2 linked regions of the Homo sapiens genome follow. The protein of the gene in region 1 purifies or fractionates together with the protein of each later gene. This does not show direct contact. Each region holds a gene or a part of one and is shown in the gene's direction. Other genes may lie near its edges.

Region 1 (7,760 bases):
CCAGAACCATGAATGAAACTTAGGATGAAACTCTATTTCATAAACCATTAAACCCTGTACCCTTTATAGTAGAGGAGTTTACAAAGATAATGACACCTTTGTATTGCGAGTTCATTCCTTTATTCTGTTATTAAATCCTGGCTTGTGTGGAACAGAAGCAACTCACTACAACAATGCCAGCCTGCGTTGCCTGGCAGCGTGAAGCGAGATGGGAAAAGTTGTTACGTGTCTTATTGGTGATGGCTGGACCATTCACAGTTCGTTGTTTTCACCCATCCATTCCTTAATTCATTTATTCACTCCATGTGCATATATATGAGTCCTCATTACATCACCTGTAAAATGGGCATAGTAATATTACCGTAAGCAAAAGGCTGTTTCAAGAATTAAGATAATCTCTATAAAGCGTGCTGCCTAGCACATAGTTAGTCCTTAAAATAATAGTTATAATTAAAAGAGTAATTACAAAAGCCACATGGTCAAAAGACAAAAATGGTCCTTTTCCAGCACTAGCTATGGGTGGAGAGGGTAAAGTTGCATCTGAAAGGTGAATTAATTCTTGAGGAAGAGGCAGATTCCTCAAATAAAAAACTGAAACTTGAGGAGATGGATCTCAGAGAAAAGAAGGAGGCCTGGACCCTCAGTCTGGGTGAGGAAGCATCAGGAGGGCTAGGAAGGCATTGCTGGGTAGTGGATGTCAAATAGACCATTGGGAATGAAGAGACAGAGAAAAGAAATTCATATGAAACGGAGTGGAGTTTCTAAGTTCTGCAGAGCAAGCTATGAACAGTTATGGTGCAATCCAAGCCTTATCCATTGATAGGCCAGCCTGGTTAAATGCCCTGTATTTTCCGTGTTTATTTTTCCATTGTTCTTCCTTACTATTGAACAAAAGTTTCTGTCCAAGTTCCTGCCTGTCTCAACTGTGCTCAGGACACACTGGGGACTCTGTTAGAAAGGAGCAGTCAACCCTGGCCCGAGTCGCGTGGCAACAGGAGTCACAGCAGGAGTTCCCTTGGAGACCAGCAAGCCCAGGGAACCCCCTTCCACAGCTAATTTGGGATGAGCTGAGCTGAGAATATTAGGAAACTGCCATTTCCTCATAACCTGTTGCAATTCCAGTATTCTGTGTGACCTAAAAACTGGGTTGGAAATCCTCCTTAACACAGATACAGAACCCAGAAGCTGTAGAGGACAATATCAACCGATTTGACCGCATAACAGGTAAAAAACAAAACTGAATGACAAGCAACAGACTGGAAAAAAATCTTCACAAACTGTAACATATTTTAATATATTCTATTATAATATAACAAAAAGGAATATCCAAAATACATAAGGAGCTCTTATAAATAATAAAAAGAGACAAAACTAATGGATAAAAGATATAAACAGGTAATTGCAGAAGAAATAGATAGACAAAATGCCTATCTTCAGTAGTAATTAAGGGAATACAAGTCAGAACAAGATGGCGTTTTTTGCCCATTTTATTGACAACAATTAAAAATATAATATTGAATACTGGGAAAGGTGAAGGGACATGGGCAGTTTCTTCTACTCACGCTGAGAATGTAAACGGGTAGCGTCTTTTTAAAGGCCAGGTTGAGGCCCGGCTCTGTGACTCACCCCTGTAATCCCAGCACTTTGGGAGGCTGAGGTGAGTGGATCGCTTGAGCTCAGGACTTAGAGAACAGCCTGGGCAACAAGGCAAAATCCTGTCTCTACAAAAAATACAAAAATTAGCCAGGCATGGTGTTGTGTGCTTGCAGTTCCAGCTACTCAGGAGGCTGAAGTGGGAGGACTGCTGGAGCCCTAGAGGTGGAGGTTGCAGTGAGCCAAGATCTCTCGTGCCACTGCACTCCAGCCTGAAGGACAGAATGTAAACCTGCCTCCAATAAATAAATAAATAACAGGTTGGCAGCATCTGTATTTACAGTATGCCTACCCTTTGTTATGACAATTCCACTTTTAGGAATCTATACTATTCAAATATGAGGATACGAGGATGTCAATGGATCATTTTAACAGTGAGAAAATATTAATAATATCTAGCATTGATTGAGGGCCAGCACATTTCTAAGCACTTTATAACAAATATTGTGAGGACCCCGAGACACAGAGGAGTTAGGTAACTTGCTCAGGGTCACATGGCAAGTGTGTGTTTGGGGCAGGATTTTGGCAATTGTTTCTTAACCACTATGCTCTCGAATAGAGAATAATTACAGTGTGGCACATCCAAACTGGGGAGTAGAGGACAGCAGGTAAGCGGAATGAAGCAGATCTCTGCCTATAGACATGGACACGCCTCTAGGACATATTAGTAATGAAGGGAAAAAACCAAGTTGCCAAACACCATGATATGGTATAATTTCATGTCTGTGGGGAAAAGGTAACATGTATCTATAATACATATGTATGAGAATGGCCAAAGGCCTTGAGTGATATAAGAATGTATGTGGAAATATAGTCAGAACAGTAAATTTTAGATTATGTTCCATATATTTCTGGTTCGTTTGAACTTTTACAAGAATGCATTTGTGCATTACTTTTGAAAACAAGAATTGTTGTACTAACCTCCTCCTTACCCTTACCCCATCCTGCAAAAAGGTTTAACTCATATCAACAGATTCATTTTCTCTTCTTCCAGGTAGACAATGGGATAGGTCTTGGGTAAAAATCTTCTGTACCATGGCTTTTTCTGGTCTATATAAATAAGTATATGTAGAACATGCCCAGGATATATATCTTGTTGATCACTACTCTTAAAATAAGGTTTTCATGTTCGGTATTTGGACCATGGCTTCCTGTTATTCCACCAAGCTACATACAAATATACAACCAGTCAAAATTAATTTGGAAACTGAGAACCACAGTGTTTTTTTTTTTTTTTTTTTGAGACAATCTCACTCTGTTGCCCAGGCTGGAGTGCAGCGGTGTGATCACAGCTCACTGCAGCCTTGGCCTCCTGGGCTCAATGGAGGAGGCCTCCAACTCAGCCTCAGGGGGAGCTGGGACTACAGGCACAGGCCACCACGCCCCGCTAGACAGAGTGCTCCTTTTGCCTTGCATATTATTTTGTCATCAGAAAAATAATCCATAATCATAGATTATCTCATTATTTTGCTCCAATGCATAAGTGGGAGTGTCTAGCTCCCTCTGTTCTCCTGGTGGCCTCTGTGGAGGTCTGAATGAGTAGCTCAATACACAGACTTAAAGGACTCTCTGGATGTGAAGTCAGTGTTACTATCTGAAAGGGAAAAGCTGCATTGGATGGATCATCGGGGCCTCTTCCTGCATGAGTCCAGCTAGGGGTGGTTTTAACTAACCTAAAACCAAAGAAGAGGCTCCAACTAATCCAATGGTTTGGATCAAAATGCAACTTTTACAGGGCTGGGGCTTCACCCTATCTTCGGGTTTATCTCTGACATGCCAGGGAGACAGTTCTTAACATTCTTATTACTTAATGGATATCAGATTGTTGCTTTTCGGAGTGGTTTTTCCATTTTTTGAAATTTAATTTGTTCTTAAGTATCTTTACAGAAAAAAATCCCATTTATTTAAGAAGTACTGTATTCTCTGGTTCTTATAGCTGCTCATTTTACATAGTTTTAGTGTGTACAAACGATTTTTTTTGTTTCATTTATTTCTAATATACCTTCTCATGTACTTGCCAAAATTTCATGTTTGACACAGTCTGCATACCTGCCAGGATTCTTGCTGTTAATGTGAAGGCGCCTGTTTGGGTTACTCAATTGTTGGACAACTGGGCCCATTCCCAGGTTTTGGTCATCACGAACATTGTGAATAGCCCTGCTGTTAACATCTTTCTGCAAGTTCTCCCCCTTCTTCGCCCTTTGGATCATTTCCTTGGAAATGTACTTCCTTAAATGGGTTTACTGGGTCAAAGGGGCTCTATGAACGGTTTTATAGCTCTTGGCACATAATTTTCGGATTGCGCCCTGGGCGGATCTAAGCGATGGCACCGGCCGCCGAGAGGGCAGGAATGCGGCGGAACGGTCCCGATAACCACCCCTCTTCCGCCCCCCAAAAGGAGAAGACCCCGCGAAGGCCTGCGGCTGGAAAGCCTTTTTCCGGTGCTCTCCCGTTCTCTTGAAGTGGTTAGTGTCTAAGCCGGGCAGAAACGCTTTCAGGATCCCAGGCCCTCCTGCCCCAGGACTAGGATTCCACCCGCCTCCGCTAATTCGGAATCCCAGACACCCAGGGCCCCCTCTCAGGCTCGCCTCGAAACCCCCGGCCCTGCGGCCCCTCGCGGGCGCCGAGCTCGGTCGCTATTATTTGGGCGCGGGTGAGGCGAGGCCCGCATAGCTGCGCGCTGAGTCAGCGGGGGCCGCGGCGGGGGGCGCGGCCGGGCTCCCCCCCAGCGCACGGTGCGCTGGGCCCGGCGTCTGGGGTTCCGCCTCGGGGCCGCGGGGTAGTCCGCGGGGTCCGGCGGGAGGGGCAGGGGGCGCGCGGAAGGACCCGGCCTGGGTGCGTCTCCCCTCCCCCAGCAGGAGCTCGGCCGTGACCGCGCGCCCGGCTATTCGCCTCAGAGAACCTCGCCAGGGGGAGGAGGCGAGGGCGGGCGAGGAAGGGGCGCAGAGGAGAAAGCGGAGCGGGACAGACGCAGGAAGGGAAAGAAAGGGAGGAAGCGCGGTGCGCGGGGCGGGGCGGGGCGGAGCGCGCGCAGGGCCGGCGGGGACGCGCGCCGGCGGCTGCGGGCGGAGGGGCTTGTGGGTAGCGGCGGCGCGCGGCCGGAGACGGGCGGCCGCGCGGGAGTGTGTGCGCCGGGAGCTGGCTGAGGGACTGCAAGGCGGCCGGCGGCGACCATGGCAGCGGGCCGGCGGCGGCCGTAGTGGCCCAGGCCTGGGCTTCAGCCTCCCGGGGCCCCAGAGGGCGGGGCGGTCCGGGCCGCGGCGGTGGCGGCGCCACTTCCCTGCTCCCGCCCGAGGACTCCTGCGGGCACTCGCTGAGGACCAGCGGACCGGCGGCGCGAATCTGACTGAGGGGCGGGGACGCCGTCTGTTCCCCGCCGCTCCCGGCAGGGCCGGGCCGGGCTGGGCCGGGCTGGGCCGGGCGGGCCCCTGGGAGCAGCCCCCAGGCGGGGGACCGCCTTGGAGACCCGAAGCCGGAGCTAGAGGCAGGCGGTGGGCCCGGGTGGAGTCCCGGCCGGAGCTGGTGGTTCGGGGGCGGTGCTAGGCCCCGAGGCTGCGGGACCTGAGCGCGAGGAGCCTGAGTGCGGGTCCAGCGGTGGCGGCATGAGCCGGCCCCCGCCGACGGGGAAAATGCCCGGCGCCCCCGAGACCGCGCCGGGGGACGGGGCAGGCGCGAGCCGCCAGAGGAAGCTGGAGGCGCTGATCCGAGACCCTCGCTCCCCCATCAACGTGGAGAGCTTGCTGGTAGGTGGCCGGGGCCTGGGAGCTTGCTCGTTGCAGCTCACACCTCAGATCCCCTCTCCGCCCAGCCCTCCGTGCCCGTCCGCCCGTGGGGAGGGGGAGGTCTTGCCCCACCCCGCCCTGCTTCCGGCAGCCGGGGCCGGAGACCAAACGATTCTGTCACCGAGTTCCAAGAGTAGTGACCCGCCTTTGATTCCTCCCTCTACCTCCTGCTGGAGCCAGTGTCATCCCCGGCTGCTCCTTTCTTGCAGCACTGGGAGGAAAACACCCCTCTTCTCCTTCCGCCTGCCCACTCTGGGGAGGTGGGTGGAGGACTGGCCATGCTTCATACACCAGGTTAGCTGATTTGAAAGTGTCATGCTACGTGGGGACTTGGTGCGAGCGAGGGAGAAAGAAACCTGATGCTGTCCCTGTTGCGAGTACTCACTGGGGTACATGACAAAGAGCCGCCCTCACTCTCTCCTTTTAGTCTGAAATCTTGGAACACACAGCTAAAGTTTTGCTGTTTTCACTTGCGTTTGAGCATTCCATACTTGCTATTTAGTGCATTTTAATTGCTGTAAATTTAATTCCCTGAGATTATTGCGCCAGAGCCAAAAAATCAGTCTGAATTGTGGAGTGGAATAAATCTGTCCTCTTCATTGCGTCTCTTTCCTATAACGACCTTTGAAATCCAGATTAATAGCACCGTAAAGGCTGCTAATTGGCTCTTGGTTAAGAAAGGAGCATGTTTTACAAAATAGAAATGCACCGTAGAATGCTGGCTTATTTCTTATTTTTGTTAGGATAGATGATTGTATTTCGCAATTTGAGTAGTGTGCAGTGTAGATGCATTTATGGGAAAAGGGGGTGTGGACTTTTACCCTGGGGAGGGGAAGAAAGGTGAAAACGATACTCTGTGTATTAAATTGACTCTGGAAGACTAGAACTAGGGTGGGAGGTCCTTAGATCCGTTAGACATTCTGTGCTGGAATGCAGATGTTTAGTTCTATTCCCTCCTGGAATAAACCTTACTGTATGATGAGAAAAACTGCCTCCTCCCTTTCCAGGGACGGACGGACTGGCTTTTGGTCAGAGGCGGTTGGTTATCCTTTGAGGTTTCAGGCATCGTTTGCAGAGTGACTCAGTCCTGTTTGGTCAAAATGCAGGAACTGACTTTAGCTATATAGTGTCTTTCTGCACAGTGTACAGAAAGTAATGAATGATGTGCTATATTGTGTCACATGTGTTTGATGTTTTACTGTTTTTCGGGTTAATGTGTTGTTCCTATGTTTTAATGGGAGCAGTCTTTGAAAGTCTTTAATCGGGAGTAAGATTGCTTGCATGGATGGCATAGCTTTTCCTAGGCTAAAGCGGAGACTCTGGGCTGCACTCCCAGCATTTTCACTTTGGTATTTTGCTAGCAAAACTTTGACCTAAGGCCAGAAAGTTTAGTTAAAAATAGTACAGCAAATCTCAAGTATTCATCAGGTTCATGCTAAATCCTAGATGGAAACGTTTTGCAATTCACTTTGATATCTTAGATCTTTAATGATATTAATCATAATTATTAGAGTTATTCTGAGCTTGAATGTAAGTAGCTTATACATGTAATATGATCATGCATTTTGTTTTATTGCTTTCCAAATTATTAAAATGGAGGCTATTTTTAAAAGTGAAACATCTCACATGTTCAGGACACAGTTCATTCATTTAGCAGTTATTACAGCCAAAACACACTTTTATTAAGGTGGCACATTACGGATCTGAGAATTGACATCAGGTGCTGATGACTTGACAGACTCTGTTATTGCTGTTTCTAGTTGGTTAAATATGCTTGAGGTGCAGTAAACCTTTCCAAGCCAAAATGCGTCCCTTATTCCTTTGGAGCAAGGTTCCTGGTGTTTCTGTTACAAATTGATAAACGAAATTTAAAAATTTTTTTATAATAAATTAATTTTAAATTACGCGTATTTTATTTATGAACTACTAGAATGGATTTTTTATTGTGGTAGCGTATACAGAATTTACCATTTTTAACCATTTTTAAGTGTACAGGTTAGTGGCAGGCATTAAATACATTCACATTGTTGTGCAGCCATCACCACTATCCGTCTCTGGAATCTTTTCATTTTTCCAAACTGAAACTGTAAATTAATGTTTAAAAGAATGTTATAAAAATTATATTTCCTGAAATACTGACGAAATAATGGCTGGTATCACTTTAAAGATCTGAAACCTTAGCATTTAGGTTGCATTTCACTATTGGTCATTGTTTTACTGCCTATGACATTTATTTTTTGGTTTTGCCATGGGAAATACATATTTTGTCTTTAACAGAAAATTTAAAGGAATATAATTTAAAGCAAACACAGCTGCGACACTACA
Region 2 (7,496 bases), on another chromosome or scaffold:
TCAGGGTGAAGTGATTCTGTATTTGAACGTATTCTAACATGGTCCAGCAGTTCCAACCCTGACTGCTCAACAGAATCCCTGAGGAGCTTTCAGAAAAGTCTGAGGCCATTGTTTGAGGTGGGCCCTGGAACCTGCATTTTAATTTATTTTTGTAGAGATGGGGTCTTGCTATCTCGCTCAGGTTGATCTCAACTCCTGGCCTCAAGTCAGCCTCCCATGTCAGCCACTGAAAGGGTTGGGATTACCAGCGTGCAACACTGCAACTGGCCATGGAACCTGCATTTTTACTTTTACTTATTTTTTTTTTTTTGGAGACAGAGTCTCACTCTGTCACCCACGCTGGAGTGCAGTGGCATGATCTCAGCTCACTGCAACCTCCACCTTCCAGTTTCAAGTGATTCTTGTGCCTCAGCCTCCCGAGTAGCTGGGATTACAGGCACATGCCACCATTCCTGGCTAATTTTTGTATTTTTAGTAGAGACGGGGTCTTACCATGTTGGCCAGGCTGGTCTTGAACGCCTGACCTCAAGTGATCCACCTGTCTTGGCCTACGAAAGTGCTAGGATTTTTTTTTTACTTTTTTTTGTTACTTTTACTTTTTTTTTGAGACAGAGTCTCGCTCTGTCACACCAGGCTGGAGTGGAGTGATTATAGCTCACTGCAACCTCAAACACCCTGGCTCAATCAATCCTCCTACCTCAGCCTCCCAAGTATCTGGGACTATGCAAGCTACTCTGGAGGCTGAGGTGGAAGAATTGATTGAGCCCGGTTGGAAACTTCCTTCCTCAAAAAAAAAAAAAAAGTAGCATTTAATAGCTGGTCCAGTGTTTCCAATATTGAGCTCTACAGGATATTTGGAGGGGGAAGAGTGGAGTTGGTCACAAGTTCTAGTAATTTTTTTTTTTTTTTTTTGAGACAGTCTCGCTCCGTGGCCCAGGCTGGAGTGCAGTGGCACAATCTCAGCTCACTGCAACCTTCACCTCCTGGGTTCAAGCAATTCTCCTGCCTCCACCTCCCGAGTAGCTGGGATTACAGGTGTGTACCACCAAGCCTGGCTAATTTTTTGTACTTTAGTAGAGACAGGGTTTCAGCATGTTGTTCCCATGGTGGTCTCGAACTCCTGAGCTCAGACAATCTGCCTGCCTCGGCCTCCCAAAGTGCTAAGATTACAGGTGTGAGCCACCGTACCCGGCTCAGTTCTAGTAATTTTTAAGCTTGAGGTTTTTAATGACATGATTTAAAAACTAGATTTAAAAACCAGATTTAAAAATATTTCCTTTACCAGTTATAATTGCCCAATTTCTCTTTTGCAGTAAAATTTCCTAGTTGAAAGACTTGATTTTCTTTATCTTTTCTTTTCTTTCTTTTTTTTTTTTTGAGAGGGAGTATCGCTCTTGTTGCCCAGGCTGGAGTGCAATGATGCGATCTCGGCTCACCACAACCTCCACCTCCCGGGTTCAAGCAATTCTCCTGCCTTAGCCTCCCGAGTAGCTGGGATTACAGGCATGTGCCACCACGCCTGGTTAATTTTGTATTTTTTTTTTTAGTAGTGATAGGGTTTCTCAATGTTGGTCAGGCTGGTCTCGAACTCCCGACCTCAGGTGATCCGCCTGCCTCGTCCTCCCAAAGTGCTGGGATTATAGGCGTGAGCCGCCGCGCCTGGCCAAAACATGATTTTCTTAAATCAATGTTTCTCCCACTGGGATTCCCTGAGTGTATCCCTAGGGGACTTTGCATTATTCAGGTTTGAAGAACGTAAGAATATACTGCTTTCTATTTATTTATTTGAGATGGGTTCCCTCTATCACCCAGGCTGGCGTGCAGTGAGGTGATGATAGCTCACTGCAACCTCCAACTCCTGAGCTCAAGCAACCCTCTGCCTCTGTCTCCCAAGTAGCTAGAACTACAGGTACACATGCCACCATGTCCAGCTAATTTTTCAACTTTTTGTAGGGATGGGGTCTTGCTATGGTGCCCAGGATGGTTTTGCATTCCTGAGCTCAAGCGATCCTCCCCTCTTGGCTTCCCAAAGTGCTGGGCTGACAAGTATGCACCACCGCCTCTGGCTCATACAGCTCTCTATGGGTAAGGGTGACCCAAGTCTGCTCAAAGAGGCCTTGCCCTCCAACTTGAGGGGAACTTGGCTTCTGGCCCAGCCCTATGCCCCATGAGATTTCCTAGGAGGAAACTTTGTAAAATATTTGAAGAGATTTATTCTAAGCCAAATATGAGTGACCATGGCCCATGACACAGCCCTTGGGAGATCCTGAGAACATGTGCCCAAGGTGGTTGGGAAGCAGCTTGGTTTTATACATTTTAGAGAGACATGAGACATCAATCAAATACATTTAAGATATATTAATACAGGGCCAGGTGCAGGGGCGTATGCCTGTAATCCCAGCACTTTGGGAGGCCGAGGCGGGTGGATCAACTGAGGCAAGAGTTCGAGACCAGCCTGGCCAACATGGTGAAACCCCGTCTTTACTAAAAATACAAAAATTAGCTGGGTGTGGTGGCACATGTCTGTAATCCCAGCTACTCAGGAGGTTGAGGCACGAGAATCGTTTGGACCTGGGAGGCAGAGGTTGCAGTGAGTGGAGATCACACCACTGCACTCCAGCCTGGGCGAAGAGTGAGACCCTGTCTCAATAAATACATAAAAAGGCCAGGCGCCGTGGCTCACACCTGTAATCCCAGAACTTTGGAAGGCCGAGGTGAGTGGATCACGAGTTCAGGAGTTTGAGACCAGCCTGTCCAAGATGGTGAAACCCCGTATTTTCTACTGAATTTTGTATTTTCTACTGAAAATACAAAAATTAGCTGGGCACGGTGGCGGGCGCCTGTAATCCCAGCTACTCGGGAGGCTGAGGCAGGAGAATCGGTTGAACCCAGGAGGCGGAAGTTGCAGTGAGCGGAGATGGTGCCACTGCACTCTAGTCTGGGCGACAGAGCAAGACTCAGTCTCAAAAAAATAAACAAATAAATAAAAATAAGTAAATAAATAAATAAAAACTACATTGGTTCGGTGCAGAAAGACCGGAAACTTGAAGTGGGGGCTTCCACATTATAGGCAGATTTAAACATTTTCTGATTGGCAATGAGTTGAAATAGTTATTATCAATAGGCCTGGTGCGGTGGCACACGCCTGTAATCCAAGCATTTTGGGAGGCCGAGGCAAGTGGATTACTTGAGCTCAGGAGTTTGAGATGAGAGTGGACAACATGGCGAAACCCTGTGTCTACAAAAAAAATGGAAAAATTAGCCAGGCATGGTGGTGCCCGCCTGTAGTCCCAGTTACTCAGGAGGCTAAGGTAGGAGGATAGCTTGAGCCTGAAAGACAGAGGTTGCAGCGAACCAAGAACTCATCACTGGACTCCAGCCTGGGCAACAGAGTTAGACCCTGTCTCAAAAAAAAAAAAGTTATTATCAATAGAAATGAATGTCTGGGTTATGATAAGGGATTGTGGACACCAAAGTTTTATCACGCACGTGAAGCCTCCAAGTGGCAGGTGGGCTCCAGAGAGAACAGATTGTAAATGTTTCTTACCAGTCTTAAGGTCTGTTGTGTTGATGTCAATGCTGAAGGATGTAATGAGGCATGTCTCATGTCCTGCTTCCCGTCATGGCCTGAACCAGTCTCTCAGGTTGGTTACATTTTAGACTGCCCTGGCCTAGGAGGAAGTCCGTTCAGATGGTTTGGTGTTGGGGGGGGGGTGGGGGCTTAGTTTTTTGTTTTGTTTTGTTTTGTTTTTTTGGCTTACAGAGTTTAGACTGAAGCCTTTGACTCTGTATCTGGCATTTCCTTAGACCACATGCTGTAGGGCTGGGCTCATGAAGGTTCTCACCTACACACCAGGTTGCTCCCTTGAGAAGGGGGACTTTGCTGGATCCTATAACCTAGCTAGTAGGAAGTAAAGGAGCTTGGGAACCAGACAAGCCTGAGTTTAAATCCTCTTTCCCGCGCCGCCCCACCTCCACTGATAGGTGTGTGACTCCGGGCAAATAAGTGATCGTTTTCTGTGCCTCAGTTTCCTCATCTGAAAAGTGGAGCTAGTAAGAACTCACAGTGGTTGCTACGAGGCTACGGTTAAGGGAAGACTTCTCCTGCACACCTCAAGCACAGTTTCCCTCCCCTTGGCGATATCCAAGAGCACTCACATCCGCCACAGCCCTCTCTGCTCATCGGGCCCTCGGGGTAGAAGTGAGTTAATTCCTGGCTAAATGTTAGTCTCAAACCACCGGGAAAACCACCCAGTTGCCCCAGACAGTGCAGCGGAGGGTGGGTGCGGCTATCAGGTCGACGCTAGAGACGCGGCGAAGGCGGGTGCGGAGGCCTAGCTCCCCCGAGCGCATTCCACCCTCCACAGAACCTCGGCCTGTGACCACGGCCTTTCTCAACACTGCGCCGCCCCCTGGCCGCCCCTCGCCATCCCGCCGCGCTGACGTGAGTGCGCGCGCGTCCGCCGCGCCCGCCCCGGCGCATGCGCGCTCTGCGCTGTCTTCTCCCGGCCTGAGCAGCAGCAGCTGCGGCGGCGGCGGCGTTTGAGTGGAGGAAGATGGCGGCTCCGGGCGGCTCGGGGTCCCGCCAGCTGTGAGGAGCCCCGAGCACGGCTGTCGCGGCCTGAGGCAGAGCGCCTCTGCTCTGGCCCTGTCCCTGGCTCCCTCATTACCGTCGCCAGCGGAGCGAACCCGAGAGCGTGGAGCGGGCTGGGCCAGGTGAGGCCTCTCCTCCTCCCCGGGCCGCAGAGGGGAGCCGGCGCCTTCTGCCCTTTATGCCCGGGACTGGCAAGGGGCAGCGGGCGCCCGGGGTCTGACGCAGGCCCCGTATCCCACGCGGGGGTCGGTCCTGGTTGGGCAGGGTGACTTGCTATCGCCGTCCTCGAGTGAGGCGAGGAGGAGGACAGCTCCTTTCCAGCCAGCCCTTGGGTTGGGAGCGAACCCACCCCCTCTCCTCAGCAGGGTGGTTCTCGTCCCCTCACCCGGGCAGTGAAGGGGTGTGTGGCCCGGGCAAGGATGGCTTTAGGGTGTCAGGTAATCTTTCATCGCTCCTCCGAACATTTCACTCCTTTGCGAGAGAGGAGTCGGGGGTCGGGTGCCCATCAAAATTGGGGCTGCGGCTGGGGGCTAGCATCTCTGAACCTGCAGCTGCAAAGGGATAATTTTGGAATTGGTTTACGTTAAATAAAACACAAAAGGCCTTTCCTATCCCCTAGCTTGTTGAGTGTTCCCTTAGAGAAATGGGAACTGCGGATCTCCTTGCTTGAGACAGCAATCCATGCTGTGACTGTGGAAGGCTTCTCTTGGCGAGAATTGTGTGTGCAAAGGGAACGGTGGAGGGTGGGAACGAATTTGTAAGCGAAGAGAAAACGATTGTGAGATCTTGATGGTCGCTGCAGAGTAACTTCAGCGCTGAGTTCGTTTGAAACCTTCGGTTTGTTAAGATTCAGAATAACCAATTGCTTTGTCTGTTAAATCTCCCGATTTCTGTTAGGAAAATAAAAGCCTCATTTCTTAATTGCCAGAGTCTGGATTTTTCTGTGGTGGGATTCTGATCGATCTAGATGAAGATTCTGACACATTACCAGTTTTACTTGCTGGCAGTTGCTGGCCCCGACGTTGAAACTATGTTGTTCCTTTTTGAGAACAACTTTTATTGCTGTTTAAATGCTAATTGGGAGACTTCGATTGTGTTTCTGTCATGTAGGGAAGTCGGTTTGAAGCCTTGTGGTCTCTTTCTTGAGGAATGATGGCTTCACTGAACTTGTGCTATGCAGAATTGTTGAGGCGATTGCTTTTGCTTGGACACACCAAAATATCTTTTGTAACAAATTGGCTTTACTTCTGCTTAAGAATGATGACATCATGGATTTAAAGAGGCAAGGAAAATTTGGGGGAAGTACCATCATTTAGAATTGAATATTTAGAATTAAGTCTGTATATCTTATGGCCATTAGTGATGCTGTGTTAAATTGCTAACTTTGAGTGTATTCACGTGTGTAATCTGATTGGGTGTCTTTTCTATTGTATGTTGTCATTTTATACCCAGTAACTGTTTGCTTTTGACAAGCCAGTATAAATAGATGATTCAATCTACATTGATCCATAGGCATGTTGCGTATCTTAAAAAGCTTTTCATTGTTAAAATGACAACTGTTTAGGTTATTATTTGACCATTTTCTTTCTTTCTTTCTTTCTTTCTTTCTTTCTTTCTTTTTTTTTTTTTTTTTGCAGTTTCTCACTCTGTCATCCAGGCTGGAGTGCAGTAGCACAGTCTCGGCTCTCTGCAATCTCCATCCCCTGGGTTTAAGCGATTCTCCTGCCTCAGCTTCCTGAGTAGCTGGGATTACAGGTGTGCGCCACCACGCCCGCTAATTTTTTTTTTTTTTTTTTTTTTTTTGTAATTTTAGTAGAGACGGGGTTTCACCGATGTTGCCCAGGCTGATCTCAAACTCCTGGTCTCAAGCGATACCCTGCCCCACCCCAGGCTTGAGCCACCGTGCCCAGCCTCCTTTTCTATTTTTAAATCAAAGACTTTTCCATAGAAATTTGTCGATTTTCTTAGTGTCTTTGCTAAAGATGTAAATCTGAACCAGCAGCTTCTCTGTGGTAGAAAATTGGAGAGCTACTTTGCATATCAATTTGCTAATAAAGAGTCATGAAATTAATGCAGTAAAACATCCTGGTGGCTCATCATTATGCTTCTTGGCATAATATGTTGCACTGTTATGCTAAATCATCATCAGGTATTGATGCAACTTCATGACATCCATGACATCATTTGCTCTCCAGATTTTGACCTTTGCAATTCCTTACCTTAGTTACAAAAAGAACAGGATCAGAAAAAAAATAGCTTAGGATGCTTCTTCTTGTCTGATTTCTAGAGGGGTCTTTAATAACAGCTTTATGTGGTTTAAACCCTGAGTAAGATTCAGAGCAGGGTGAGTCCTACCTATTATGGAGAGCAAGCAAAGAAAATGCTAACAAAACGTCTGAGTTTTATGAGAACACTGAGGTCCCAGGGAGAAGCTATCTCAAAGATGAACAAATACGTAATTATCTTTGTGATTTCAGAATTGTTTTAGTCAATGAATTAACTCTTTTTGTTTGTTTTTTGAGACATAGTTTTGCTCTTGTTTCCCAGGCTGGAGTGCAATGATCTCGGCTCACTGCAACCTCCACCTCTCCGGTTCAGGCGATTCTCCTGCCTCAGCTTCCTGAGTAACTGGGATTGCAGGTGCCTGCCATCATGCCCAGCTAATTTTTTGTATTTTTAGTAGAGACAAGGTTTCACTATGTTGGCCAGGCTGGTCTTGAACTCCTGACCGCAGGCGATCCACCTGCCTTGGCCTCCCAAAGTGCTGGGATTACAGGCTTGAGCCACTGCGCCCGGCCCTGAATTAACTCTTTATAAAACCAGAAGCCATTTGATTAAATAAAGCCCTTCCCACGATTGTTAATGTGGATCAGAAAAGATAGTGTTCGTGAAAGTGCTTTGT

The links.
Region 2: the proteins of ROCK2 (region 1) and FBXO42 purify together in Homo sapiens (affinity purification with mass spectrometry; 2 studies listed by BioGRID and IntAct, with this or other methods). This does not show direct contact.

The regions. Positions count from the first base shown.
Region 1 is NC_000002.12:11,341,632-11,349,391, reverse strand, and holds the start of ROCK2 (rho-associated protein kinase 2), read left to right. Parts: upstream 1-4,755; 5' UTR 4,756-5,255; coding exon 5,256-5,396; intron 5,397-7,760. UniProt on the Homo sapiens protein: Protein kinase which is a key regulator of actin cytoskeleton and cell polarity.
Region 2 is NC_000001.11:16,349,475-16,356,970, reverse strand, and holds the start of FBXO42 (F-box only protein 42), read left to right. Parts: upstream 1-4,490; 5' UTR 4,491-4,716; intron 4,717-7,496. UniProt on the Homo sapiens protein: Substrate-recognition component of some SCF (SKP1-CUL1-F-box protein)-type E3 ubiquitin ligase complex. Specifically recognizes p53/TP53, promoting its ubiquitination and degradation.